5 separate regions of the Homo sapiens genome follow, and regions 1, 2, 4 and 5 are each linked to region 3. The links come from fine-mapping of genetic effects on gene expression. A gene starts in region 3. Each other region holds a variant in brackets. All regions are shown on one strand. Distances are between the middles of the regions. Region 1 has its middle 7.1 kb from the start of CYP2A7. Region 2 overlaps SPTBN4 (spectrin beta, non-erythrocytic 4). Region 3 holds the start of EGLN2 (egl-9 family hypoxia inducible factor 2). Region 4 overlaps ACTMAP (actin maturation protease). Region 5 holds the start of MIA (MIA SH3 domain containing).

Evidence for each region.
Region 1: its variant is fine-mapped to the expression of EGLN2 in whole blood (TOPMed, PIP above 0.99).
Region 2: its variant is fine-mapped to the expression of EGLN2 in whole blood (TOPMed, PIP 0.99).
Region 4: its variant is fine-mapped to the expression of EGLN2 in whole blood (TOPMed, PIP above 0.99).
Region 5: its variant is fine-mapped to the expression of EGLN2 in whole blood (TOPMed, PIP above 0.99). The same link has a PIP of 0.9 or more in blood mononuclear cells.

What each region holds. Positions count from the first base shown.
Region 1 is chr19:40,886,390-40,892,253 of GRCh38, forward strand. It overlaps the pseudogene CYP2G1P. Among named protein-coding and RNA genes, the nearest start is that of CYP2A7, 7.1 kb to the left of the region's middle. The variant C/G (reference allele first, on the strand shown) is at 3,116.
Region 2 is chr19:40,500,774-40,506,188 of GRCh38, forward strand. It overlaps SPTBN4 (spectrin beta, non-erythrocytic 4), which reads left to right. Exons shown (of 36, transcript NM_020971.3): 8 at 1,148-1,260; 9 at 1,355-1,542; 10 at 1,617-1,734; 11 at 2,002-2,160; 12 at 3,057-3,359. Among named protein-coding and RNA genes, the nearest start is that of SPTBN4, 36 kb to the left of the region's middle. The variant T/C (reference allele first, on the strand shown) is at 2,979.
Region 3 is chr19:40,796,290-40,802,153 of GRCh38, forward strand. It overlaps EGLN2 (egl-9 family hypoxia inducible factor 2), which reads left to right and starts at 2,902. Exons shown (of 6, transcript NM_080732.4): 1 at 2,902-2,973; 2 at 4,050-5,126. The coding sequence starts at 4,284. It overlaps RAB4B (RAB4B, member RAS oncogene family), which reads left to right. Exons shown (of 8, transcript NM_016154.5): 8 at 281-653. MIA-RAB4B (MIA-RAB4B readthrough (NMD candidate)) reads left to right here. Exons shown (of 10, transcript NR_037775.1): 10 at 281-655. It overlaps RAB4B-EGLN2 (RAB4B-EGLN2 readthrough (NMD candidate)), which reads left to right. Exons shown (of 12, transcript NR_037791.1): 8 at 4,050-5,126. RefSeq lists silencers at 2,680-3,039, 3,190-3,239 and enhancers at 4,663-5,337, 5,516-5,864.
Region 4 is chr19:40,741,370-40,747,233 of GRCh38, forward strand. ACTMAP (actin maturation protease) reads right to left here. Exons shown (of 6, transcript NM_198476.5): 2 at 3,761-3,829; 3 at 3,190-3,314; 4 at 2,698-2,827; 5 at 2,536-2,606; 6 at 1-1,401. The coding sequence ends at 1,064. Among named protein-coding and RNA genes, the nearest start is that of ACTMAP, 6.2 kb to the right of the region's middle. RefSeq lists enhancers at 2,673-3,639, 3,640-4,605. The variant T/G (reference allele first, on the strand shown) is at 2,172.
Region 5 is chr19:40,770,949-40,776,812 of GRCh38, forward strand. It overlaps MIA (MIA SH3 domain containing), which reads left to right and starts at 4,573. Exons shown (of 4, transcript NM_006533.4): 1 at 4,573-4,721; 2 at 4,804-4,937. The coding sequence starts at 4,595. MIA-RAB4B (MIA-RAB4B readthrough (NMD candidate)) reads left to right here and starts at 4,589. Exons shown (of 10, transcript NR_037775.1): 1 at 4,589-4,721; 2 at 4,804-4,937. The variant G/A (reference allele first, on the strand shown) is at 2,572.

The sequences.
Region 1 (5,864 bases), 90 kb after region 3:
GAAAAAACCCCCAGAACTGCAGGAAGCTTTTTATGAGCATAATCTTAATTGAACTCCTGATTGCAAGACTGAGGTTAGCTTTATCATCTCCATTTTGCAAATGAGTTAGATAAGTTCCCCCAAAGCCGGTCATAAGTGACTTGCTTCTGCATTTCACAGCTAATGAGTGTAGAGTCTTAGTATGGTCTTGTGTGATGGTAAATTTTTTTTTTTTTGAGATGGAGTTTCGCTCTTTTGCTCTTGTTGCCCAGGCTCGAGTGCAATGGTGCGATCTTGGCTCACTGCAACCTCTGCCTCCTGGGTTCAAGTGATTCTCCAGCCTCAGCCTCCCGAGTAGCTGGGATTATAGCCACCAGACGCAGCTCATTTTTGTATTTTTAGTAGACACGGGGTTCACCATGTTTGTCAGGCTGGTTTCAAACTCCTGACCTCAGGTGATCTGCCCACTTCGGCCTCCCAAAGTGCTGGGATTACAGGCATGAGCTACCATGCCTGGCTGTGAATGTAAGTTTCATGCTGTTAATCACCACTTTGGACTGCTAGGCCCCACCTGTTTTTCTTTATGAAACATTAGAAAAACTGCTTGTACTCTCTTGTGTTTCTTCAAATACTTCCATGTAAACATGTAACAAAGGATTTCAAAATGTTAGAAAAAAAAGTCTTTTAATAGGAGGGAGACTTGACCTTCTGTAGTGTTTGCACTTTTTGGAAGCTTAACCAAAGACCTAGTTGGCCAGTATACCCCTCATGCCATTGGCAATGAAGCAGTGGGGGAGTTGGGGTACTAGTTGTTGTGGCCAGAGAGTGAAATGTCTGTGTTTCACATTTCAGATTGATGACAAGGATTTGGGGGGTGGGGCTGTGGGAATGTTGGCTGAAAATAGAGTGAAGAAGGTCAAAGAAGAGAAGACAGTCAAGATTCTTTTTTTCTGAGTGTTTGGATAGCTCACATCCATGGCCATGAAGTTCCTCCCTACCAGTAAAATGGCAGGACTTAGAGTTCAGAGATGGGAAAGAAGTTGGATAGATGATAGGGATGAACAGCTTTTTTTTTTTTTTTCTTTTGAGGTGGAGTCTTGCTCTGTTGCCCAGGCTGGAATGCAATGGTGCAATCTTTTTTTTTTTTTTTTTTTGAGATGGAGTCTTGCTCTGTTGCCCAAGCTGGAGTGGAGTGCTACAATCTTGGCTCACTGCAAGCTCCACCTCCCGGGTTCATGCCATTCTCCTGCCTCAGCCTCTGAAGTAGCTGGGACTACAGGCGCCCACCACTACGCCCGGCTAATTTTTTGTATTTTTAGTAGGGACTCTGTCTCAAAAACAAGACAAACAAAAACAAACAAACATGATGCAACTATATGCTGCCTATAAGAAACTCATTTTACCTGTAAAGATGCATATAGACTGAAAGTACATAGATGGAAAAAGATATTCCATGTAGACAAAAACCAACAGCAAGCAGTAGTAGCTATAACTTATACCAGTTGAAACAGATTTTAAGGCCGGGCGGGAACGGTGGTTCATGCCTGTAATCCCAGCACTTTGGGAGGCTGAGGTGGGTGGATCATAAGGTCAGGAGATCGAGACCATCCTGGCCAACACGGTGAAACCCTGTCTCTACTAAAAATACAAAAATTAGCCGGGCGTGCACCTGTAGTCCCAGCTACTGGGGAGGCTGTGGCAGGAGAACCACTCGAACCTGGGAGGCAGAGGTTGCAGTGAGCAGAGATCGTGCCACTGCATTCCAGCCTAGGCGACAGAGCGAGACTCCGTCTCAGGAAAAAAAAAAAAAAACCATTTTAAATCAAAAACATTAAAAATAAAAACAAAACAAAGTATGAACCCGGGGGCGGGGGTGGAGGTTGCAGTGAGCCAAGATCACACCAGTGCACTCTAGCCTGGGCAACAGAGCAAGACTCCATCTCAAAAAAAAAAAATATTCTGGCAGCATCACATTTCTTAGTCCCAGAAGGAGGGCCATGTGACTAGGCAAAAAATGACCCAGGTTCCATTTCATGCACACACCCTCTGGAGCACAAATCTCCTTCTCTCTATCCCACTTAGACCTGGGTTTCTCTCTTGTCCCTGTATCTCTTTGTTTCGTTGCCTTTCTCTTTGTTCATCTCCACCTCCAACTTTTTGTCTAGTTGGATTTCTCTGTGAGCCATGGGTGCGTCCACTCTTTGGGTTCCTCTTGATTCTCTTCTCAGCCGTATGTCACTTTCTCAGTCTCTGTCTCACTGAAACTTTTTTCCTGTCTTTTATTCTTTCTGCTTCTATCTCCCTCTCTCTGTTTCTTTGAATTGTCTTTTGTCTCTGTGTCCTCCTTGACATTTATCTTTGACTCACTGAATCTCTCTCTCTCTCATCTCAATTTTGTTTTGTTTGCTTTGTTTTGTTTTTGAGACAGTCTCGCTCTTGTTGCCCAGGCTGGAGTGCAGTGGTGCGATCTTGGCTCACTGCAACCTCCACCTCCCGGGTTCAAGCAGTTCTCCTGCCTCAGCCTCCTGAGTAGCTGGGATTACAGGCGCCCGCCACCATGACTGGCTAATTGTGTGTGTGTGTGTGTGTGTGTGTGTGTGTGTGTGCATGTATTTTTAGTAGAGACAGGGTTTCACCATGTTGGCCAGGCTGATCTCGAACTCTTGACCTCAGGTGATCCACCTGCTTTGGCCTCCCAAAGTGCTGGGATTACAGGTGTGAGTCACTGTGCCTGTCCTCATCTCTATTTTGATCTCACTCTGGTTCTGTTTCTATGCACCTCGATTTTGTCTCAATCTTGATTTCTGTCTCCATCACATAATACCTGGCATAATCTGCCATGCTCTGAATTTCTCTGCCTCAAGTCCTCTGCAATTATTTTTCCTCTTTAGCTTGCTTCTACTTTTTAGTTCAAGTTCCTCCACTCCTGGCTTCCTATCTGGAGGTGGAATGGTGAAGGGAGCTGTTCTAAGAGTATTTGCTCTCTCCCTTCCCGTCTGAGTAGGAAAACCAGACTCACCATCACCACACACATGCCACCACCCTGAATGGGTGTTAAATGCTGGGGTGTGAGGATCAGAATGGGATGGGGAGGTGAAATCTAAGAGAGTCAAAGGAGATGGGCTGAGCTGAGTCT[C/G]TACTCCAAGAAAGACATTCTAGCAGCAGATCCAAGAGACAGAACGTGGCACTGTGTGTGAGTCACTCAGTTTTCGTAGAATTTCCACTGCTTCTGGACACAGGATGCCTCAGCTCAGCCAGCCAAACCCCATTCCCAAAACTTACAGATACCTTGAGGGATTCAGTTTCCAAGTCTGAGAATACAGTCGTGTGAAAAGGACATTGAATTTTGATAAATAGTATATGTGGGTAGGATATAATATCCAGGAAGTTCATTTCAGGCCAATAAGGCTTTGAAAATATTTGGTGCGGAAAAGGTAGTGAATCACTTTTTAGATTATTAAGGAACACAATCACTAATTGCGCTGGAGGAGATGTTCTCCTCCAGAGACTGGGGTTCAGAGGTGATCCCTACACCTTAGAGTTTTAAAACACACACACGCACACACACCAACACACAATACAGCAAAGTTCTTTTTTTCTTTTTTAAATTTGATACAGCAAAGTTCTGATACACCAACACAAGTAATCTTTGATTATTGTTATTTAACATCTTGAGTAGAAAACAAGAACTTTTTGAACAAAACCTGTTCAATTGATTTATTTCTCTTGTTTTCTAAATCTTCAGCTTACTTTCCTTATTAACATTCTAGTGTTCCATTACACAGTAGGGTAGCTGTAGTTAACGATAATACATTGCATATTTCAAAATAGTTAGAAGAGAGGATTTTGAATGTTCTTACCACAAAGAAATGATAAATGTCTCAGTAATGGATATAATAATTACCCGAATTTGATTGTTATACATCGCATACATGTATAAAAACATCACACTGTACCCCACAAATATGTACAATTATTATGTCAATTAAAAAAATTTAATAACTGTTTAATTAGGGTTATACTTAATTAAGTAACGAACAAAGAGTTTTCCTTGTTGTCTATCAAGACTTTCTAAAACAACATGGTCTGCCAGCTGTGGTGGCTCACGCCTGTAATTCCAGCACTTTGGGAGGCTAACGGGGGGGCGGGTGGTGGATCACTTGAGGCCAGGAGTTCGAGGCCAGCATGGCCAACATGGTGAAACCACATCTCTACAAAAATACAAAAATTAGCTGGACATGGTGGTGTGCGCCTGTAGTTCTAGCTACTTGGGAGGCTGAGGCATGAGAATCGCTTGAACCCTGGAGGCAGAAGTTGAAATGAGATTATACCACTACACTCCAGCCTGGGTGACAGAGTGAGAATCTGTCTCAAAAAATAAAACAATAAAAAAAAATAAAACAACATGGTTTCCCTGTTTGATAGATGGGGAAACAAGTCCCAGAGGTTAAGTGACTTTCCCAGTGAAGAAAAGACAGAGCTGCCACTTGTACCCAGATTGTCTGGATCCTAAAATCAATAGCCTAAAAAGATAATAATTTGCCTCTTACACCCCACCAAGAAATTCTGTTCAATTCTGTTGAGCTGAGAGGGAAGAACAGGGAGACTGGAAATATGAAGAAAGGGGAATGGCCCCAGAGGATTTCCCTGTGTGAATTCAATTTACCTTTATTCAGGTGGGAGATTATAGGTTATATAACCACCCCCAATATAAAGCAATCTCTTCCCCGATGACACTCAAACCCGGAAAACTTGAATCCCAGGGTGTTCAGATTTTGGTATAAGCTGATCTCCCAGGACCTACTTAGGCAGGATCTGGTGCCCAGGACAGAACCTGTTGACCTGGCACCATGGAGCTGGGAGGGGCTGTCACCATCTTTCTGGCACTCCGCTTGTCTTGCCTGCTCATCCTCATTGCCTGGAAACGAATGGATAAGGCAGGAAAGCTGCCCCCAGGTCCTACACCAATTCTTTTCCTGGGGCACCTGCTGCAAGTTCGAACTGATGCTACGTTTCAGTCTTTCATGAAGGTGAGTCTGTCTGTCTCCTTTAATAGGGCTAAAAGCAACTAATCCTATAGCCAGATTCACATAGAAACTTATGACTTCTAAAAGATAGACTCTCAGAAACACAGACTTTGCAAATCTTAGAATTCTGAAATTCCAGAATCCTAAAATGTTGGAAACACACATTCTCAGTGCATTGAAATAAGATTTTCATGATCTCAGGACTTTGGAATCACAGTACATTATATTTTTAAACACAGGATTCTTTGACTCAGCTTGTCTTAGCACTTTGAGACTTGGTATCATGAAGTCTTAAGATTCTAGAAATTTAACATTTCAGAGAGAGAAGTATGAATCTTGGAATTTATCGAATCCAGGTCCCTTATTTTGGAGATGCAGACAGTAACTCTTGTGGGAAGGGATGAGCTTTTGCCGAGAATGACAGAAGCCAAGACTTCCGTGCCTCTTTCCCAGTATTCCTTCCAAGCCCAGATTTACCTTGGTTCCTTAGTACCATGTTTATATCCCTCTAAAATCGCCATCCTCTAAAATCCTCAACTGGCCTATGCTTGGTACTCCAGTCAGCCCCTCCTCTTGTGTTTTCCTTCACTCCAAGCTCAGGGAGAAATACAGCCCTGTGTTCACTGTGTACATGGGTCCCGGCCAGTGGTGGTTTTATGTGGACACGAAGCAGTGAAGGAAGCCTTGATAGACCAAGCGGATGAGTTCAGTGGCCGTGGAGAACTGGCTTCAATAAAGCAAAACTTCCAAGGTCATGGTAGGTAGCAACAACAACAAAAACAATAAAACCGGAAATGACTGCAATGCACTCCCTATATGCCAGGTTCTTTGGTAAGTAGTCCACATGACTTACTGTAT
Region 2 (5,415 bases), 300 kb before region 3:
GAGGCAGAGGTTGTGGTGGGCCAAGATCACGCCATTGCACTCCAGCCTGGGCAATAGCTTGAGACTGTCTCAAAAAAAAAGAAAGAAAAAGAAAAGAAAGGAAAGGAAAGGAAAGGAAAAGAAAGGAAACAGGCATAGTGTTTGTCCTCATGAAGCTCAAGCTCTAGATAATGACATAATCACATAAGTGAATATGTAATTACAAATTGTGATACATTCTGGGAAGGACATCATAAGATGCTAAGAGGAGAATAACATGAGGATTATCAACTATAGACAGAGTGAACATGGAGGCTTGTCTAAGGAAATTTGAGTTGAGCCAGGCATGGTGGTTCACACCTTTAGTTCTGACTACTCAGGAGGCTGAGGTGGGAGGATTGCTTGAACCTAGGAGCTCGAGGCTGCAGTGAGCTATGATTGCACCACTGCACAATCAGCCTGGACAAGAGAGCCAGACTCCATCTCTTGAAAAAAAAAAAAGTAAAAAGTTGAGCTCTGAAGAATAAGTGGGAATTAGGAACACAGAAGAGGAACAGTGCTCCAGACAGTGAGAACAGCACATGCAAAGGCCCTGAGGTGGAAGGTAGAAAGGTGTGTTCAAGAAACAAATATAGGCCAGGTGCGGTGGCTCACATCTGTAATCCCAGCACTTTGGGAGGCCGAGGTGGGCGGATCACCTGAGGTCAGCAGTTCGAGACCAGCCTGACCAACATGGTGAAGCCCTGTCTCTACTGAAAATATAAAATTAGCCAGGCATGGTGGTGCATGCCCATAACCCCAGCTACTTGGGAGGCTGAGACAGAAGAATCACTTGAACCTGGGAGGTAGAGGTTGCAGTGAGTTGAGATCGTGCCATTGCACTCCAGCCTGGGCAACAAGAGCAAAATTCCATCTTAAAAAAAAAAAGAAAAGAAAAAGAAAAGTATAGCTTATTTCTCTGCGGTGGTTTATATGTGTCAGGCACTATTTAATTCCAGGAGGTAGATTTCTATTTGACGGATACAAAACCTGAGGAACAGAGAGGTTAATTATCTTGCCCAAGGTCACACAGCTAGTGAGAGTGGCTTCTCCATCCCTCCATCCAATACCTTCAAGCACTCTGTCAAAGTGCCCACTGTCTTGTTTCCCCACTCCCTCTTGCTTCCAGATGTGAACATGGAGGCTCCAGATGAGAAGTCCATCATCACCTACGTGGTCTCTTTCTACCACTATTTCTCCAAGATGAAGGCTCTGGCTGTGGAGGGGAAGCGTATCGGGAAGGTATAAGGAGCCAAGGAGTGGGTGAGTGGGAAGCTGGAAGCTGGTGGCAGGCACGGGTGGGATGAGGCTGACCCCCCTTCCTCTGCTGTGTCAGGTCTTGGACCAGGTATTGGAGGTGGGGAAGATCATAGAACGCTACGAGGAGCTGGCGGCTGAGCTGCTGGCCTGGATCCACCGCACCGTGGGCCTCATCAGCAATCAGAAATTTGCCAACTCCTTAAGTGGGGTGCAGCAGCAACTCCAGGCTTTCACGGCCTATTGCACGCTGGAGAAGCCTGTCAAGTGAGGCCCAGCTCTGGAGGGAGGGTGGGCAGGGGTGGCATGACGGCAGGGCTCCTGAGCTCATGCCCCTTCAGGTTCCAGGAGAAGGGGAACCTAGAGGTGCTGCTCTTCAGCATCCAGAGCAAACTGCGTGCCTGCAACCGTCGCCTCTTTGTGCCTCGGGAGGGCTGTGGCATCTGGGATATTGACAAGGTGAGGCCGGGGATGCAGGGGAGAGGCGGGGTTGCACTGTGGAGTTGTATAGGTTGCACACTGCTCAAGGGAATCATTCACATTGTAGACATGATGGATTAGATATTCATTCTGACAGTTTTTCAGTAGTAAAGTGTCATAAGGAAGCAATATTTTTTCCAATTTGCATGAAGTTGCCATAATGCTATGAGTGACCTCAGACTAAGTCAAGACCATTAAACTGTGGGGAGCTGTCAGAGTCTGAGTGCCTCCTCCCATCTCCTGCAGGCATGGGGTGAGCTGGAGAAGGCTGAGCATGAGCGGGAGGCTGCCCTACGGGCTGAGCTGATTCGGCAGGAGAAGCTGGAACTACTGGCACAGAGGTTTGACCACAAGGTGGCTATGAGGGAGAGCTGGCTGAATGAGAACCAGCGTCTGGTCTCCCAGGTACAAGGTGTAGGGCTTGGCTCCAGGGTAAAGGGACGGAGGGCGGGGCTGATGGTCCTGGGACCAGAGAGGGAGACTTGATCTTCTAGGCAACAGGGAAGAGTTAGATTAGTCTCCTGGTGATAAATGAGGATGGGGATGGGAGACTTGGCCTTCCAAGTGATTGTTGGGTGAGGGGAATGGGCCTGATCTCCAGGGTAATGGGAGAGTGAGGCTGGTCTCCAGGGTAACTAGAGAGGGCAGAATTCATCTTTTCAGGAATGGGGGAGTGTTTTAAGTGACAAGGGAGGTTGTATCTTGTGTCTAGGGTAACTCAGAAGGATAGAATTGGTTTCCTAAGTAACAGAGTCAGGTAAACCTGGTCCCTAATCTCCAGGACAGGGGAAGCATGGGCCTCCTTCCTGGGTAACAAGTTTAAGGTTAGAGATGTAACAGGAGGGTGGGACTTGTTTCCAGGGTAACTGGAGAGAGTGGGGCTGGTCTCTGGGGAAACGGGAAGGTGGGGTTGGTCTCTAGGGCAACAGGGGAGGGTGGGTCTGGTCTCCAGGGTAACTGGGGAAGATTGGGCTGGTCTCCAGGACAACAGGGGAGGGTGGAGCTGGTCTCCAGGATAACTGTGGAAGATGGGCTGGTCTCCAGGGCAACAGGGGATGGGGGGTTGGTCTTTAGGGTAACTGGGGAGGGTGGGGCTGGTCTCCAAGGTAACAATGGAGGGTGGGGCTGGTCTCCAGGTTACCTGGGTAACAGGGGAGGATGAGGCTGGTCTCCAGGATAACTAGGGAGGGCAGGGCCAGTCTCCAAGGTAATGGAGTGGGGAG[T/C]CCCCAGGGTCACACAGGGTCAAGGTAACAGGTGGACTGCTGAGGCAGCATGGGTGAGTGTCTGGCTCACTGCCCCAGGACAACTTTGGGTATGAGCTGCCCGCAGTGGAGGCAGCCATGAAGAAACACGAAGCGATCGAGGCAGACATTGCGGCCTACGAGGAGCGGGTGCAGGGTGTGGCGGAGCTGGCCCAGGCATTGGCAGCCGAAGGCTACTACGATATCCGGCGGGTGGCAGCCCAGCGTGACAGCGTCCTGCGCCAGTGGGCCCTGCTAACTGGGCTTGTGGGTGCCCGGCGGACACGACTTGAGCAGAACCTTGCCCTGCAGAAGGTCTTCCAGGAGATGGTGTACATGGTGGACTGGATGGAGGAGATGCAGGTGCCGGCGGGGGGGCGGGGATGCGGGTGGAGTGCCAGGAGGGAGGGGAGGATGCAGACGCTGAAAGAGTTGTCAGACAGCTGGAGATGGAGAGGGAAGGGCAGAGATAGAAGAAGATAGAGAGAAAGCCAGGGAGACAAAAAGAGAGAACAAGAGAGAGAGGGAGAGAAAGATACAGAGATGGACAAGAGAGGCAGACAAAGAAACACAGAATGAGAAAGAGACAGAGACAAATAGAGAGAAATAGAAACATGCTGGACACGGTGGCTCACACCTGTAATACCAGCACTTTGGGAGGCCAAGGAGGGCAGATCACTTGAGGTCAGCAGTTTCAGACCAGCCTGGCCAACATGGTGAAACCCCATCTCTACTAAAAATACAAAACAATTAGCCGGGCGTAGTGGCGGGCGCCTGTAGTCCCAGCTACTTGGGAGGCTGAGGCAGGAGAATGGCGTGAACCCGGGAGGCGGAGCTTGCAGGGAGCCGAGATCCCGCCACTGCACTCCAGCCTGGGCGACAGAGCGAGACTCCGTCTCAAAAAAAAAAACAAAAAAAACAAAAAACAATTAGCTGGGCGTGGTGGCGTGTGCCTGTAGTCCTAGCTATTTGGGAGGCTGAGGCTCAAGAATTGCTTGAATCCAGGAGGCAGAGGCTGCAGTAAGCCAAGGTGGTGCCACTGCACTCCATCCAGCCTGAGTGACAGAGTTTGATTCTGTTTCAAAAAAAAAGAGAGAAATGAAAAAAGACATAGAGATATAGAAACAGAGTAAACCAGGGATGCAGACAGAGAGATAGTGACAGTTTGAGAGAGAGGAAATCAGAGAGACAGAGAGAGGAGAAGGCAGACACAAAGGTGACATGGAAATCTACATGACTACAGAGAAAGATACAGGAAGATGGAATCAATTTAAGAGAGAGAGAGAGAGACCTACCAGATCTAGAGAGAGATGAGACAAGAAAGATAGAAGCCAGCTGGGCATGGTGGCTCTCACCTGCGGTACCAGCACTTTGGGAGGCCGAGGTAGGCAGATTGCTTGAGCCCCAGAGTTTGAGACCAGCCTGATCAACATAGTGAGATCCTGTCTGTACAAAAAAAAAAAAAAAAAAAATTAGCTAGGCGTGGTGGTGTGCGCTTGTAGTCCCAGCTACTCTGAAGTGGGAGGATCGCTTGAGCCCAGGAGGTTGAGGCTGTGTGAGCCATGATTGCACCACTACACTTCAACCTGGATGACAGAGTGAGACCCTGTCTCAAAAAAAAAAAAAAAAAAAAAAGAAGAAGCCGGGCACGGTGGCTCACACCTGTAATCCCAGCACTTTGGGAGGCTGAGGCAGGCAGATCATCTGAGGTCAGGAGTTCAAGACCAGCCTGGCCAACATGGCGAAACCCCATCTCTACTAAAAAATACAAAAATTAGCCGGGCGAAGTACATCTAATCGGGAGGCAGGAGAATCACTTGAACCTGGGAGGTGGAGTTTGCAGTGAGCTGAGATCGCGCCACTGCACTCCAGCCTGGGTGACAGAGGCAGACTCTGTCTCAAAAAAAGAAGAAGAAAAAAGAATGAAAGGGAGGAAGGAAGGAAGGAAGGAAGGAAGGAAGGAAGGAAGGAAGGAAGGAAGGAAGAAAGAAAGGTGAACAGGAGACACAGACAGGAAGGTGAACAGGAGATGGAGAGAAAGAGAAAAGGGTAGAAATGTAGAAAGAGAGGCAGAGAAAGATGGAGACAAAGATGTATAGATAAGAAAGACATGGAGGCAGAGAGTGAGCCACTGTGACAGAGACAGAGCCCAGAAATGTGGAGTCCACGAGAGATGGAAACATTCAGAGAGAGACTGGTAGAGAGAGAGGGAGACAGAGACAGAACACCATGGCTAGCTGTGAGAGCTGACAGCAGCTGGGGCTCAGCTTTTTTCTTTCTGATGAGGAAACCGAGGTCCAGGCCACAGAGCTGGTAAGAGAGTCTTGAGGCTGGTCCATATCTCTCCAAGAGGGTCAGAGTCGGGAGTGATGGTGCAGAGTAGCAGGGGCTGGCATAGGCAATGGGGGAGAGGTGAGTG
Region 3 (5,864 bases):
TGCGTCCATCCAGATTCATGATATTTAGATGTTGAAATGTGGCTTTACAGACTCAGACAGCTCTCTGAGGCAAACAAAGAGGGAGATGCAGGTACCCTCAGCACAAGCCCCAAATTACCTGCAGGGGAGAGGCGGAAAATCAGACAATGTAGAAACCGGGAGAAGAAAGGTATGGACAGACCGATGCAGATAGGAGGGGAAGGAAATACCTGGAAATGAGATAGAGACCGGCTGGACAGACCCCGGGGACCCTGCAGGTCACCACACCCTTCTCTTTCAGCTCACCTGTTCTCCAGGACCAGCCCTGCTGGGGCCCAGGCCCAGGCTCTGAGAGGCCGTGTCCTAACCTGCCCTGGCCCCGGAGAAGCTACGTTGCCACCTGTCCCCCTTCCCTGGCCTGGTGGGGCCTGGCTTTGGGGCAAGACTGAGCCACGGGGGAAGGGGGAATCCCGTACCTGCTGCTGCTTCCTCTGTCTTGGCTAACGTCTGTCCCCCTGAACCCCTAACCATACCCCAAGAGCTCCCAAAGCCTGAGACCAGGGTCATTTGTCCCCAACTCCCCATCTGGCCCTGCTGTTGCTAGTACCTGTTATTTATTACCTGGAGGCCTGTCCAGCACCCACCCTACCCCCATAAAGCATTGTTTACACCTGTGTCTTGGCCTCCATTATTGTGAGATGGCAGGGAGATGGAAGAGGTCCCTGATGGAAGAATCATGTGTCATGGTGTTTGGGGGCCTTGTTTCTGTTTTTTTGTTGTTGTTGTTGAGATGGAGTTTCCTTCTTGTTGCCCAGGCTGGAGTGCAGTGGCGTGATCTTGGCTCACCACAACCTCCACCTCCCGGGTTCAAGCTATTCTCCTGCCTCAGCCTCCCGAGTAGCTGGGATTACAGGCATGTGCCACCACACTTGGCTAATTTTGTATTTTTAGTAGAGATGGAGTTTCTCCATGTTGGTCAAGGTTGGTCTCGAACTCCCAACCTCAGGTGATTCGCCCGCGCTGGCCTCCCAAAGTGCTGGAATTACAGGTGTGAGCCACTGGGCCTGGCCTTGGGGGCCTTGTTTCCTGATTGGACGTGGTGTGGGGTATACCAAGCATGATGACTCAGGTGCCTGTTGCGGAGGGAGGGAATTTGTTACTGTGTGGACAGTTTGTGACAATCTGTGTTCTAAGCTCACGTGTGTAAACACGCTGATGTCCCTGTGTTTGTGACATGTGTACATGTTTCCAGTACCTGCATATGGGATGATGTCTATAGGATATAATGTGTGCTGGTTGTGTGTGATGCTGACAGCCGTAACTGCTCTGTGGCCTTGGTCATTGTATTGGTGAGGCTGGTATTGTTTGGGACATCAAGGCCAGGGGATGGGAATTTGGACCTATAGGTGGGCCTCCGGTGTGTGCATGTCTGATGCCTGAGAGTCAGAGGCAGTGACTCACTACTGCGTGTGTGCCTGTGCATGTGTACCCCGAGGTCTGTGTGTGTTTTGGTGTGAATTTGGCTCCTTTTAAACACCCATGTGTGGCCAGGCGTGGTGGCTCATGCCTGTAATCCCAGCACTTCGGGAGGCCAAGGCAGATGGATCACTTGAGCCCAGGAGTTGGAGACTATAGCCTGGGCAACACAGAGAGACCCTATCTACAAAAATAAAAAACAGAAAAAGTTAGCCAGGTGTCGTGGTACACACCTGAAGTCCCAGCTATTCCGGAGGCTGAGGTGTGAGGATCACTTTAGTTGGGAGGTTGGGCCTGCAGTGAACTATGATCATGCCACAGCACTTCAGCCTGGGCAAAAGGGTAAGACCCCATCTCAAAAACAAAACTAAACTAGAAACACCCTTGTGTGGCCATGAACCCTGTGTGTGCCCTGAGGACTGCGGGCTTTTGTGCAATCCTCACGCATGTGTGGATACCAGTATGCATGCCCTTGTGCTCACGCGAACCGCCCTACGCCCTCAGGTGGCCTGCAGGGGACTGGTGCAGCCCCGAGGACACTCCCAGTTGCTCGTCGCCCTCCCATCTCCACGTCGGCCTTCACCGACCCGGCGGGAGCCTTGAGTCCCAGCTCTCCAGAGCAATGGTGGAGCGGGCAGGGCATTCAAAATGACCTTATCTCCTTAGTCTCCTAAAGTGTTCCCAGCTGGCCATGCAAATGTCTTCTCTGTGTAGCGTTCCGTGGATTTTTTTTTGTTTCATTTTTTAATTTTGTGTAAAGATAAGGTCTCACTCCGTTGCCCAGACTTTCCCTGGTTCTTTATTCTGATTCCCACAATCGTCCCGAGGGGGCAGGCCGGAGCGGGTCTTGAAAATACACATTTGCACATCCCTTCTAGTCCGCGTTCCCTTTTCTCAAGGGCAACCCGCACTTTTTTGCCTCCGTTATAAAAGATACTTATGTAAATTACTGACGTGCGAATTTACATACATTTCTCAACTAACTGCGTAGCCATTTCTCCGTCTCTCACCTCCGTTCCTGGACGGCGAGAAGGAGGAGGAGCTGACCATGTAAATGAAGTCACGCGCACCGCGCTGCCGAACTCGGTGCCCCGCGCTGGGCGGGGGGCGGGTAGGCCTGTCCATGTAAATCACATCATTTGCGTGCCCCGCCCCGCCGACGCCACTTGATTCCAACATGCAAGAAACGCCCCCTCCCAGACCCGGCCCCTCACACTGCGTTCCCCCTCCCGCGCAAAGGGGGCGGGGCGGAGGATGCAAATGAACCTCGTGTAGGCCACGGACCGCTGTTTCCTTTCTCCTTGGTAGGGGGGTTGTCCCGAACTTCCTCGCCCCGCTCCGCCCCGCCCCGCGCGGCTCGGGCCTGCGCAGGCGCCGTCCCCTCCGCGGGGCGCGGTCACGTGCCCACCGGGCGAGGCGGGGCGGGGCGTCGCGCGCGGTGGGGGCGGGGTATGGCGCGCTGTGCGGCGCAGGGCGGCTGGCACAAACGGCGGCGCCGGGGCCGGAGGAAAAAGCTCGGTGAGGAGGTCGCGGGGCGAGAAGGGAGCGGGAGGAGACTAAGCCGGAGCCGGGGCGCCGGCGCGAACCGGGCGGGGTGTGGGGGCGCGCGCCGGGGCCTGCCGGGGCGACCCCGGGAAGGGGGATGTGGGTGCGGCGCGGGGGAGGGGACGCGCGCCGGTTACGTTGGGTGCCGGCCGTTGTGGGGGTTGGGGTGGGGGCGGGGAGCGCGCGCCGGGCGGAGGCCGAGTGGAGGGGGAGGGGAGGGGGTCCGAGCGGCCCTTAGGCCCTGCCCCTGTCGCCTACTGCGCTCAGAAGGGGCCTCAGGGCCTGCCCCGGGTTGGGGGCGTTGGGGTGCCCTGGATGGGGGCACCTTTATCTCTCGTCCTGTCTCCGGGTGCGTGCACCCTCCTCCGTCCTTTCCTCTGTCGCCGCGGACCCTCTCCCCGAGGGCCCCTCCCGTCGGTCAGTCTCGGGACCTCCCTTCCGTCTGGGCGTGTGTCCGCCCCCGGCCGGCTTCCTCCCGTCGGGCTCGGGTCGACCCCACCGTCCCGCTCCGCCCCGGGTCCTCCCTCCCAGCTTCCCTCCGGTCTATTTTTCTGTCTCTGGGCCCCTCGTTCTCTTTGTTTTTGGACTCCCCAGTTTCCTCTGTCTTTTGACCCCCCCGCCCCCACCCTGACTCTCCCTGGAACCCCCACGTTTCTCGTTGTCTTTCTGGAACGCCGAGGCAGGTCCCTCCTATTTTCCAAACCCCCTCCTTTCCCACTCCTCCACACCACCCTTTTCTACTCCAGCCCTCCTTCTTCTGTCTTTGGTTACCGCGTCCCACAACCTGCACCACAGTCCTCTGTCTTAGGGTCATCTACCCAGCCCCTGGCCTCCAGCCTCTCCCTATCACTGCCTCTTATCTGTCAGCGGACTCCCGCACCTCCAGATTCTCAGGGTCCTCTCCCCGACTTGGCCTCAGGTTTTGGGGGGCCTCTATAGTCAAGTCTGTCCTGGTCGTCTTCCCCACTCCTGCCCATACCATCCCGGCTTTCCCCTGCCTGCCTGTCTCTAGTTTCTCTCACATCCCTTTTTTTTTTTCCTTTCTCTAGCCACCCTGAAGGGTCCCTTCCCAAGCCCTTAGGGACCGCAGAGGACTTGGGGACCAGCAAGCAACCCCCAGGGCACGAGAAGAGCTCTTGCTGTCTGCCCTGCCTCACCCTGCCCCACGCCAGGCCCGGTGGCCCCCAGCTGCATCAAGTGGAGGCGGAGGAGGAGGCGGAGGAGGGTGGCACCATGGGCCCGGGCGGTGCCCTCCATGCCCGGGGGATGAAGACACTGCTGCCATGGACAGCCCGTGCCAGCCGCAGCCCCTAAGTCAGGCTCTCCCTCAGTTACCAGGGTCTTCGTCAGAGCCCTTGGAGCCTGAGCCTGGCCGGGCCAGGATGGGAGTGGAGAGTTACCTGCCCTGTCCCCTGCTCCCCTCCTACCACTGTCCAGGAGTGCCTAGTGAGGCCTCGGCAGGGAGTGGGACCCCCAGAGCCACAGCCACCTCTACCACTGCCAGCCCTCTTCGGGACGGTTTTGGCGGGCAGGATGGTGGTGAGCTGCGGCCGCTGCAGAGTGAAGGCGCTGCAGCGCTGGTCACCAAGGGGTGCCAGCGATTGGCAGCCCAGGGCGCACGGCCTGAGGCCCCCAAACGGAAATGGGCCGAGGATGGTGGGGATGCCCCTTCACCCAGCAAACGGCCCTGGGCCAGGCAAGAGAACCAGGAGGCAGAGCGGGAGGGTGGCATGAGCTGCAGCTGCAGCAGTGGCAGTGGTGAGGCCAGTGCTGGGCTGATGGAGGAGGCGCTGCCCTCTGCGCCCGAGCGCCTGGCCCTGGACTATATCGTGCCCTGCATGCGGTACTACGGCATCTGCGTCAAGGACAGCTTCCTGGGGGCAGCACTGGGCGGTCGCGTGCTGGCCGAGGTGGAGGCCCTCAAACGGGGTGGGCGCCTGCGAGACGGGCAGCTAGTGAGCCAGAGGGCGATCCCGCCGCGCAGCATCCGTGGGGACCAGATTGCCTGGGTGGAAGGCCATGAACCAGGCTGTCGAAGCATTGGTGCCCTCATGGCCCATGTGGACGCCGTCATCCGCCACTGCGCAGGGCGGCTGGGCAGCTATGTCATCAACGGGCGCACCAAGGTAAGGCTAGGTGGGGGCCTCTTTGGAGGGGCTTTGCAGCACCCTGGTTTGCAGCATTCAGTGCTCTGAGCACAGTGGGTTTGGAGACAGGCTTCTGGGAGGTCACAGAAGGTTTAGGCAGTTCAGTGGAGTGGGTATGCTTACTTGTGGGGACTTGGGGGGGTCTTTATCCTCCCTACGGGCCTTAATGTGTGCACCTGATAAGCTAGGAGTTTGTCCTGGAGCCACAGTGGTTCTTTTTTTTTTTTTTTTTTTTTTCTTTTCTTTTTTTATTGATCATTCTTGGGTGTTTCTCGCAGAGGGGGATTTGGCAGGGTCACAGGACAATAGTGGAGGGAAGGTCAGCAGATAAACAAGTGAACAGAGGTCTCTGGTTTTCCTAGGCAGAGGACCCTGCGGCCTTCTGCGTGTTTGTGTCCCTGGGTACTTGAGATTAGGGAGTGGTGATGACTCTTAACGAGCATGCTGCCTTCAAGCATCGCCACAGTGGTTCTTGACTTTGCCAGGAACCCTCTTAAACTCATGAGAGCTGCTGACATTCACAGCGTGGACCTTGGTGGGGTTCATGGCCTCCTGGTGTCAGTCTGTGGCCCCAGACCAAGCACGGGGATGTAGATAGGCACACAGTTCACCTGGCCGTTCTCTGTTGCTGTCTGTCCCTGTCCACATCCTTCCCTGTGCTCCTGTCGTCCATCCCTGTTTGCTGGCCCATGTTTCTAGTCCATCCATCCTGTCTCC
Region 4 (5,864 bases), 55 kb before region 3:
GAAGTGGAGGCTGGAGTGAGCTGAGATCACGCCACCGCACTCCAGCCTGGACGACAGAACGAGACTCCATCTAAAAAAAAAAAAAGCAACAGTGCTCTGTAGTTTCCCTAAATGAGATGGGCTCAGTTAGGGACAGAGAAGTGATCCAGACAGGCCTGTTCCTCCTTCAGAGTGGAGGGGTCAGGTATTCATGAAGCTAGTAATCACACACACTCACTAGAAGTTTGTATAAGTGGACAGGAAAGTTTGTGGTCAGCACCATAATGTTCAGGGAGCCAGGAGACAGCCTGGCTGAGATACTGACTACCTAGCTTGAATCCTGACCTTGCCATGTGCTAGTCATGTGACCTCAGGCCAGTGATTCCACTTCTCCAGGCCTCAGTCTTGCCATCTGTCAAATCGGGTCCATCTAGCACCCCCCTTACAGGGTTGCCAGATCTGCTAACACAGGTAGAGGGGCTGGCACAGGTAACTGCTCCCAGATGGGCTTTAAAACTGTGAAGACATGAGGTGGGGGAGGGGTGTCTTGACTGGGGCTGCAGGACTCTTCCCTGAGGTAGTGATACCTGAGCCCCAATGGAAAAGTTAAGGAGTGATCCGCAGCAGAGGGCTGGGGGTGGGACTCAATGATCCGGGGATTTGAACAACACTTCAGGGATCTAAAAGGCCAGTATGACTAGTAGGTGGCAAGCATGAGGAAGACCTTGGGCTAAGGAGGGGTGAGCTGAGGCTGACGCAGTTCAGTGTCCCTGTCCTGTGAGAAGCAGAGGGCCCAGGCAGGAGGTTCCTCAAATGTCTAGTGAGATGACAGAGGCGGCCCCTAGTGAGAAACAGACGATGCGACATTCAGATGGAATAGGCAGGCCGCAGGGTCCGGGCTGTTGTCAATCTCTCCCTAGAGGGACCAGCTGGTGCTCAATACTGCAGGGGGTGGCCCTGATGAAGGAGGACTGGAGACCCCTGAGACCTAGCTTCAATCTTGTCGCCATCACACAGTGGGAGAAGTGTAGGCACACTTCAAATGGTTACCGAGCTAGGCTGCAGCCTGAGACCGCAGCCGCAGCTAATGGCTGCAGTCCTGTGGTGTGAGGAGCAGGGCCTGGCCACAGAGGCCAGCCCGTACCCCACCCACGGGCACCACGTACACCCGGCCGTCAGTGGCCCGTGAGGGCGAGAAGTCCGTCAGCTGCAGGTTGCTCTCCCGGACCTGGTCGTAGTCCCACAGCTGATAGTGCCAACTCTTGCCCTGCTTGGACAGCAGGTAGACAGCTCCCGGGGAGCCCTCCTCTGGCAGGGATGGTGGTTGGCAGGGCGTGCCCAGCACTGGGTGGAACAGGCCCGGCAGCTCAGGGTCCTCAGTGTAGCCGAGACTGGGCACAGCCCGAACACCCAGCAGGACCCCTGGGGGAGAGGAGAAGGTGGTGAGTGGCAGTGACTGAGCCAGGACCAGGTGCTGGGGCTCACTAAGTTCCGCCCTCTCCCGGCCCTCCAGGGTGGGTGCAGCTGCCATTCCTAGGTTACGGTGACGTTAGTGGTGGCCAGTGGGTTGGGATTTGGACCCACCGTGGCACCCGGCTCCAAAGCTGTAGGTGTTTTAAGTCTTGCCTCATCTGGCCTGAGCACAGGGGAGGTGGGGAGGCAGCATGAGATGAAGCAAATGCCGTCACCCGGTCATCCTCAGCTCTTTAGGGAAGAGGCTCCAAGAGGAGCTGTCAAGACCACAAAGCCATGAAGAAGCTGAGCGGAGCCTCCCCCGGACCTCCTGACGCGGACCAACCTGGCCTTCTTTCTTTCAGGCAGGGGGAATGATGAAAACGGTGCTGGTAATACTTACAGAGACATGTCACACGCCAAGCCCTGTTCTATTTTTTTTTTTTTTTTGAGATGGAGTCTTGCTCTGTCACCCAGGTTGGAGTGCAGTGGCACGATCTCAGCTCACTGCAACCTCCGCCTCCCAGGTCCAAGCAATTTTCCTGCTTCAGCCTCCCAAGTAGCTAGGATTTCAGGCATACACCACCACGCCTGGCTAATTTTTGTATTTTTAGTAGAGACAGGGTATCACCATGTTGGCCAGGCTGGTCTCAAACTCCTGACCTCAAGCGATCCACCCACCTTGGCCTCCCGAAGTGCTGGGATTACAGGCGTGAGCCACCGCGCCTGGCCAAGCCTTG[T/G]TCTAAGAGTGCTGAGTGCTCTGCCTACAAGGCAGCCTTATGAGGTGGGTACTGTTACCCCCAATTTCCAGATGGGGAAAGGAGCTGTCCAGAGAGGTGATGATACCTGCCCAGAGTCACAGAGCCTAGAAGAGGCTGTGCCAGGCCTGGAGCCCAGACGGTCTGATCCTGAAATCTGTGCTCTGAGCTTCTGTTTGTAGAAGCTCCAACTGGCAGACACCTGGGGCCCAGCCTGCCCGGTGCTAATGCTAAGTGCCCAGCCTGGCTGGGGAGGCACCAGCACAAGGGGTGAGAATGTCAGGAGGATTAATGGAGGCCGGGGAGACCCAGGTTGAGGGGTGCAGACAAAGGAGGGGGAACCCACCTGCACTCACCGCCCAGTGTGCCTTGTGGCCCTTCCTCTGACACGGCTCATGGTTGAAGTCCTCGTCGTAGCTGGTGCTGGCATTAAGGTAAAAACGATGGTGTGGCCCTGGGACCCACCCTTTGCCACCCCTGCCCTCCTCTCTCCCAGGCCCTGGGATACGGGATGAGCAGGGGATGTCCAGTGACCAGGTGCTGCAGGACGAGGTCTCTGTTGGGACCGCCCAGGCCACCAGAGAGCAGCTTGGCCTGGCAGCCCAGCACCTCCTGGGCCAGCCTGCCCATATCGGCCACTGCAGGGTGAGAGCACACAGAGGGGGCTTGCTGCATGTGCCCAGCACCGTGCTGAGGGCTCACAGTGGGCGATGCTTCCAACCCTCACCATGACCTTCCACCCCTTGGTACAAATGCAGAAAATGAGGCACAAAGAGCGTGAGTGGCTTGTCCATGGCCCCAGCGAAGAGGTGGCAGAGCTGGGTTTGCAACCTAGGCAGCCAGCTCAAGTCCATCTTGTAACCTCTCTGCTCTACTGGGCAGTGGGAAGGGCCCAAAGAATGGAATGAGACACCCTGACACACGGCTGCCAGCATCCCACCCAGCCTCTCTGGTCCCAGCCTCATGAAGAGATGATGGAGCATGCAGTCACCCAGCTCACCTGAGAACATCTCTCCCTGGGCCGTGTAGCCTCTTTCCGTGGCCACCCGTATGAGTCTCTCCAGGGGGACGCCACTGGGGGGCGACAGGAGAGTACCTGCCATCCACAAGGCCACCAGCCCGCATCTGGGGACAGAGAGGCCCAGCCTGTCAATCCTATGTCACAGCCCCCTTACCTGGAAGCTGGAGTTGGGGAACAGGTTTGCTGCCCTGGAGGAGTCCCCCTCCCCTCTCCCAGGCCAGCGAGGGAGACCTGACTCCCCTTCAGGGGAGAGCCCAGGGCTGGAGGGCTGGGGGTGGAAGGCGGGGGAGAGGTCACCTGAGCTTCCTGGGAGGAGGAACCAAGGTGGAGTTAGAGAGATGGACCAGGCTCATTCGTTCATTCCTCGCATGTCCCAACTATGTTTACTATGCAGGCACTCAGAAGCCTGAGTGGAAAGTTCCCCCTTTCCTTCCCTCCTCCTCCCAGCAGGGACAATCCACTCCTCTTCTCCAGATCAGTCCTTAAGAAGCCCAGCAAGGGCAGAGTAAAGGCAGCAGATGGGCTGGGGTTCCCGCATCAGGGCACATACTGAGGGCCTTCTTGGATGAGGGACGGCAGGTCTGCACAGAAGAGGATCCACCGCAGGTCACCTCGGAACCTGAAGCAGAGCCGTGCTCAGTCACCAGGGAGCCAGCTCTGAAGCACCCCCTACCCTGAGGTCTGGCTGGGAGTGGTCGTATCCAGGGATGATGAAGGGAATATGGGCCTGGCTGTCCTAAGGCTGAAGGCGGCTCCTGGTTCAGTCACTGACTTCCCCTCCCCAAGCTTCAGTTTCCTCATCTGGTTTGTGGGAATGGTCCTTCTGCCTGCCTGCTCCCTGCTCGCTCTCTCAGTTATTGAAGGGTGAGGAGCAAAGGGTGGCACTTTGCAACCAGGTTTATCTGAGGAAATTTCTCAAAGTGGTATCTCTATCTCCAACTCTTTTTCTTGCTCTGTTGCCCAGGATGGAATGCAATGATGCAATCAAAGCTCACTGCAGCCTCGACCTCCCAGGGTCAAGTTATTCCTCCTGCCTCGGCTTCCTGAGTAGCTGGGAGTATAGGCATGCACCACCATGTCCAGCTAGTTCTTTTTATTTTATTTTATTTTGAGACAGAGTTTTGCTCGTTTTGCCCATACTGGAGTGCAACAGCGCGATCTCAGCTCACTGCAACCCCTACCTCCCGGGTTCAAGTGGGTCTCCTGCCTCAGCCTCCCGAGTAGCTGGGATTACAGGCATGCGCCACCACGCCCAGCTAATTTTGTATTTTTAGTAGAAACGGGGTTTCACCATGTTGGCCAGGCTGGTCTCGAATTCCTGACCTCAGGTTATCCACCCACCTTGGCCTCCCAAAGTGCTGGGGATTATAGGCGTGAGCCACCGTGCCCGACTCTTTTTATTTTTAGTAGAGATGAGATCATGCTATATGTTGCCCAGGCTCCAAACTCTGTGATTTGTTTTTCGCTTCAAGTCTGTTTCCTGGGCTGTTCAACAATGAAAATCCCTTAACTGAACTTTGAATAAAACCAGGTAACAACATGCTTAAGGCCTAAAACATCACCTTGATAGTGAATCTTTGTACCCTGGGGGAGGCCACTCAGATAGTCTGGCCCTGAGGGATTCATTCCTTTTTGTTTGTTTGTTTGTTTGTTTTTTGGGACAGAGTTTCCCTCTTGTTGCTCCGGCTGGAGTGCAATGGTGCGATCTTGGCTCACCACAACCTCCGCCTCCTGGGTTCAAGCGATTCTCCTGCCTCAGCCTCCTGAGTAGCTGGGATTATAGGCATGCGCCACCATGCCTGGCTAAGTTTTTGTTTTTGTTTTTGTTTTTTTTTGAGACAGCTGGAGTGCAGTGGCCCGATCTTGGCTCACTGCAAGCTCTGCCTCCCGGGTTCACGCCATTCTCCTGCCTCAGCCTCCCGAATAGCTGGGACTGCAGGCTCCCGCCACCACACCTGGCTAATTTTTTGTATTTTTAGTAGCAACAGGGTTTCACCCTGTTAGCCAGGATGGTCTCGATCTCCTGACTTCGTGATTTGCCCGCCTCAGCCTACCAAAGTGCTGGGATCACAGGCGTGAGCCACTGCACCCGGCCCTTTTTTGTATTTTTAGTAGATACGGGGTTTCTCCATGTTGGTCAGGCTGGTCTCGAACTGCTGACCTCAGGTGATCCACCCGCCTCAGCCTCTGAAAAGTGCTAGGATTACAGGCGTGAGCCACCATGCCCGGCCTCCTTTTTTTTGTTGAGATGCAGTCTTGCTCTGTCGCCCGGGCTGGAGTACAGTGGTGCGATCTTGGCTCACTGCCACCTCCACCTCCTGGGTTCAAGCAATTCTCCTGCTTCAGCCTCCCGAGTAGCTAGAATTACAGGTGTGTGCCACCATTTCCGGCTAATTTTTATATTTTTGGTAGAGACAGGGTTTTGCCATGTTGGCCAGGCTAGTCTCAAACTCCTGGCCTCAGGTGATCTGCCTGCCTTGGCCTCCCAAAGTGCTGGGATTATAGGCATGAGCCACCGTGCCCGGCCCATGCTTATTATTCCTATTCCAAGGCTGGTAAGAAGGCAAGGTTCGGTTTGGGTGTTGGGGGGGTGCGGACTCAGAGCTCCTGGTTCCTAGTTTAGGGTACCCTCCTGATGAAAGATGATACCACAT
Region 5 (5,864 bases), 25 kb before region 3:
GGAATTGGTTCCTTCTGGTGGGTTCTTGGCGTCGCTGACTTCAAGAATGAAGCCATGCACCCTCGCAGTGAGTGTCACAGTTCTTAAAGATGGTGTGCCTGGAGTTTGTTCCTTCAGATGTTCAGATGTATCTGGAATTTCTTCCTTCTGGTGGGTTTGTAGTCTATGCTGAGTTCAGGAGTGAAGCCACAGACCTTCGCGGTGAGTGTTACAGCTCATAAAGATAATGTGGACCTATAGAATGTGCAACAGCAAAATTTATTGCAAAGAGCAAAAGAACAAGGCTTCCACAGCATGGAAGGCGCCCTGAGCCAGTTGCAGCTGCTGGCTAGGGTGGCCTGCTTTTATTTCCTTATTTGGTCCCACCCACATCCTGCTGATTGATCCATTTTACAGATAGCTGATTGGTCCATTTTACAGAGTGCTGATTGGTCTGTTTTACAGAGTCTGATTGGTCCGTTTTTACAGAGAGCTGATTGGTGCGTTTACAAATCTTTACCTAGACACAGAGCGCTGATTGGCGTGCTTACAATCCTTTAGCTAGACACAGAGCGCTGATTGGTGCATTTACAATCCTTTAGCTAGACAGAAAAGTTCTCCAAGTCCCCTACCTGATTAGCTAGACACAGAGCACTGATTGGTGTGTTTACAAACCTTTAGCTAGACACAGAGTGCTGATTGGTGCATTTACAATCCTTTAGGTAGACAGAAAAGTTCTCCAAGTCCTCACCGGCCCAGAGGCCCAGCCATCTTCACCTCTCAAGCTGTCTGTAGAGGTCCACGTGTCAAGAAAACTGAGGACAGAGGCCCTCAGTCCAGTTCCCACAAGCAACTGCATCTCCCCAACAGCTGCCTGAATGAGTTTGGAAGCAGTCCTCCCACCATTCAGCCTTCAGATGAAACTGCACCCCTGGCTGACAGGCTGATTGCAGCCTTATAGCAGACCTTAAGCCTGAGACATTCGACCCACAGAAAAGGTGATAATTTTGGTCTTTTTTTTTCTAAACAGGTTCTTGCTCTAGAGTGCAGTGGCACGATCATGGCTCACTGCGGCCTCTACATCCTGGGTTCAAGTGGTCCTCCCACCTCAACCTCCTGAGTGGCTGGGACTACAGGTTTGTACCACCATGCACAGCTAGTTTTTCTCTTTTTTTCTTCTTTTTGTAGGTACAAGGGTCTCCCTGTGTTACTTAGGCTGGTCTCAAATTCTTAGGCTCTAGCAATCCTCCTGTCTCAGCCTCCCAAAGTGTTGGGATTACAGGCATGAGCCACTGCACTGGGGCAATGTTGGTCTTAGGCTAATTATGCAGCAGGAGATACATGCACTGTGCTTTGGGAATTGAAGTCACTTCTATTTCTTTGTGGCTTCATCAGTAATATGGGGCAGGGGGCACGGTTCCCACAGCTGATTCTTGAGTGTTCTTTCTGAGTATCCTTAATACTTCACACACTATCATATATCTGAACTTTGTTCATTGATTATCTCCCCTTTAATTTTCATTCCTTGATGAATCTCCAGGGTCTGGATTAAGTCCTAGGATACTTTATGTACTCATGAAATCTTCAATGAATGAAGAAATGATTTTTTTTTTTTTTGAGACAGAGTCTCACTCTGTCACCCAGGCTGGAGTGCAGTGGCATGATCTTGGCTCATTGCAACCTCCACCTCCCAGGTTCAAGCAATTCTTCTGCCTCAGCCTCCTGAGTAGCTGGGACTACAGGCATGCGCCACCATGCCTGGCTCATTTTTGTATTTTTCAGTAGTGACAGGGTTTCACCATATTGGCCAGGCTGGTCTTGAACTCCTGACCTCAGGTGATCCACCCACCTCAGCCTCCCAAAGTGCTGGGATTACAGGTGTGAGCCACTGCATCCGGCGGATTTTTTTTTTTTTTTTTTTGAGACAGGGTCTCACTCTCTCGTTCAGGCTGGAGTGCAGTGGCGTGATCTTGGCTCACTGCAGCCTCCACCTCCCAGTTTCAAGTGATTCTGGTTCGGCCTCCCAAGTAGCTGGGACTACAGGTGTGTGCCACCATGCCTGTCTAATTTTTGTATTTTCACCACGTTGGCCAGGCTGGTCTCAAAACTCCTGACCTCAAGTGATCCGCCTGCCTCAGCCTCCCAAAGTGCTGGGATTACAAGAGTGAGCCACCATGTCTGGCCTGAATGAAGAAATAATTTTTTAAAGAGTGTTTTAAAGTGGGGCCGGGTGCGGTGGCTCACACCTGTAATCCCCACACTTTTGGAGGCCAAGGTGGGTGGGTCACTTGAGGTCAGGAGTTTGACACCAGCCTGACCAACATGGTGAAACCCCATCTCTACTAAAAATACAAAATTAGCTGGGCATGGTGGCAGATGCCTGTAATCCCCGCTACTTGGGAGGCTGAGGCAGGAGAATCACTTGAACCCGGGAGGGGGAGGTCACAGTGAGCTAAGATCGTGCCATTGCACTCCAGCTTGGGTGACAAGAGCGAAACAATGTCTCAAAAAAAAAAAAAAAAAAAAAGAAATTGCATTTCAAAGCCAGGTGCAGTGGCTCACACTTATAGTCACAGCTACTTAGGAGGCTGC[G/A]GTGGGAGAATAGCTTGAGCCCAGTTGTTCAAGGCTGAGTGAGCTGTGATTGTGGCACTGCACTCTAGTCTGGGTGACAGAGTGAGACCCTGCCTGTAAAAAAAAAAAAATCTTTCAGGCCAGACGCGGTGACTCACTCCTATAATCCCAGCACTTTGGAACGCCGAGGCGGGTGGATCACCTGAGGTGGGGAGTTCGAGACCAGCCTGGCCAACATGGACAAACCCTGTCTCTACTAAAAATACAAAAATAGCCGGGCATGGTGGCACATGCCTGTAATCCCAGCTACTCGGGAGGCTGAGGCAGGAGAATTGCTTGAACTCGGGAGGTGGAGGTTGCAGTGAGCTGAGATTGTACCACTGCAATATGAGACTCCATCTCAAAGAAAAAAAAGAAAAAAAAAAAAAGATAGCATAGCAATGGCTGTGGGCCTGGATACAAGTCTTAGCCTCTCCACTTCTCCACTTCCTGGCTCTGTAAGCCTTAGACAAGTTCCTTAACTCCACACTTCCATTTCCATGTAACAAGGGGTTATAGGCCAGGCATTGGTGGCTCATGCCTGTAATCCCAGTGCTTTGGGAGGCCAAGGCGGGAGGATACTTGGGGACAAGAGTTCAAGACCAGCCCAGGCAGCACAGTAAGACATTGGCTCTAGAAAAATAAAAATAAAAGAAATCATCCAAGAATGGTGACTTGCCTACTATTCTACTCGAGAGGCTGAGAGGGGAGGATTTCTTGAGCCCAGGAGTTTGAGGATGCAGTGAGCTATGATCACATCACTGTACTTCAGCCTGAGCAACAGCAAGATCCTGTCTCAAAAAATTAAATTAGGCTGGGCTTGGTGGCTCATGCCTGTAATCCCAGCACTTTGGAAGGCCATGGTGGGCAGATTGCTTGAGCCCAGGAGTTTGAGACGAGGCTGGGCAACATGACGAAACCCCGGCTCTACCAAAAAATACAAAAAATTAACTGGGCATAATGGTACATGTCTGTGGTCCCAGCTACTCGGTAGGCTGAGGTGGGAGGAATGCTTGAGCCCAGGAAATAGGGGCTACAGTGAACCAGGATCATGCCAGTGCACTCCAACCTGGGCAACAGAGCAAGACTCTACCTCAAAATAATTATTTAAAAAAATGGATTAATTGGGCATAGGTGGCTTGTGCCTGTAGTCCCAGTTACTCAGGAGGCTGAGGTGGGAGGATTGCCTGAGTCTAGGAGGTTGAGGCTGCAGTGAGCCGGGATGGCACCATTGCACTCCACCTGGGCAACAGGGTGAGACCCTGTCTCAAAAAAGAAAAAAAAGGGAGGGGTTATAATCACTCCTCCTGACATGATACAGAGTATCCATTTGAGTTCATAACATAAATATGTACTTGGTGAATGCTCTGTAACTATTGGCTTTTTTATTGTTCCCATTTTACATATAAGGAAGCTGAGGCTTTGTGAGGAGAAATAGCTTAGCCCAGGTCATCCAGTGGGAAGCGTCTGGTGCAGAGGAATAGTGATCATGGTGGGACTTTGCCTAGCCTAAGGTTCAGCATACAATATTCAGTCAGTACTCAAGGGCTGGGCTGTTTCTGGTAATCAAAGGGCTGCCTTGTTCTCCTGCCCCACAGCACAGGAAATTCCAAGGTGGTTTTCTTTACAGGCTCCTCCGCTTCTGTGGCCAGAGGGGACAGCGGAGGAGCCCAGGTACCTAAGCCAACTCAAGAGAAGATGGAATTGAATATTTCAACCACCTTATCTAGGCCTCTGTGATTGTTGAGGAGGGGGCTGTCACTGGGAAAGTTGTGAGCTGCTTTGGACCTTATCTGGGAATTTCCTTGGGCTTACAGCCTTTACCCTATCCTTGAAATGGTTCTGGTTTCATAGCAACTTCTAGGTGGTGTGGGCGAAGTTTGGGACTGGTTTAGGGCGGGGACAAGACCAAGAACACAAGTTTCCTTGTACTACGGGAGAGAGGGAGGGGAGGAAATTGGAGACCCCAGCACCCCCTTGCTCACTCTCTTGCTCACAGTCCACGATGGCCCGGTCCCTGGTGTGCCTTGGTGTCATCATCTTGCTGTCTGCCTTCTCCGGACCTGGTGTCAGGGGTGGTCCTATGCCCAAGCTGGCTGACCGGAAGCTGTGTGCGGACCAGGAGTGCAGCCGTAAGAATGGGGAGGGGAGAATTGGGGGCTTGGGCGTTAGCCTGTGTGGAGGGTGCTGCATTCCCTTCTATTCCTTCCCTAGACCCTATCTCCATGGCTGTGGCCCTTCAGGACTACATGGCCCCCGACTGCCGATTCCTGACCATTCACCGGGGCCAAGTGGTGTATGTCTTCTCCAAGCTGAAGGGCCGTGGGCGGCTCTTCTGGGGAGGCAGCGTGAGTCTTGGGAGAGTGAAAGAGGGAAGGGTACAGAGCTGGGGTAGACTCATTATCCCCATGAAGGGAAGATTTGAGGGGGGTGAACTGAAATAGACATTGTGGGGGGATATTGTTACTTACTTTATTTTATTTGCTTATTATTTTTTAATTTTTTCCGAGACAGAGTCTTGCTCTGTCACCCAGGCTGGAGTGCAATGGCACGATCTCGGCTCACTGTAACCTCCACCTCTTGGGTTTAAGCGATTCTCCTGCCTCAGCCTCCCAAGTACCTGGGATTACAGGCATGCACCACCACACCTGGCTAATTTTTGTATTTTTAGTAGAGACAGGGTTTTACCATATTGGCCAGGCTGGTCTTGAACTCCTGACCTCATGATCTGCCCGCCTTGGCCTCCCGGAGTGCTGGGATTACAGGTGTGAGCCACTGCCCCCCAGCCTATTTTCACTTTATTTACCAATTTTAGGACCTGATATGGTCCCACGTTCTGTTCTAGACACCAAGATACAACAACAAATGATCCTTTTTATTCTAATGGAGGGAAATGAACAAAAAGCAAGGCATAAAAAATAGCAGCAGCCGGGCACAGTAGCTCACACCTGTAATCCCAAGTAAGGCCAAGTTGGGAGGATAGCTTGAGCCCAGGAGTTCGAGACCAGCCTGGGCAACATAGCAAGACCCCCATCTCTATAAAAAAAAATTTAAAATTAACTGGGCTTCATGGCATGTGTCTGTGGTCCCGGCTACTCGGGAGGCTGAGGTGGGAGGATTGCTTGATCCCAGAAGTTGAGGCTGCAGTGAGCCGTGATCATGCTACTGCACCTCAACCTGGGCGACACAATGAGACCCTGTTTCCAAAATAATAATAATAATAAAAGCAAATATGCGCTGCTGTGAGAATTAACAGAGACTTACTTGGGTGTTCA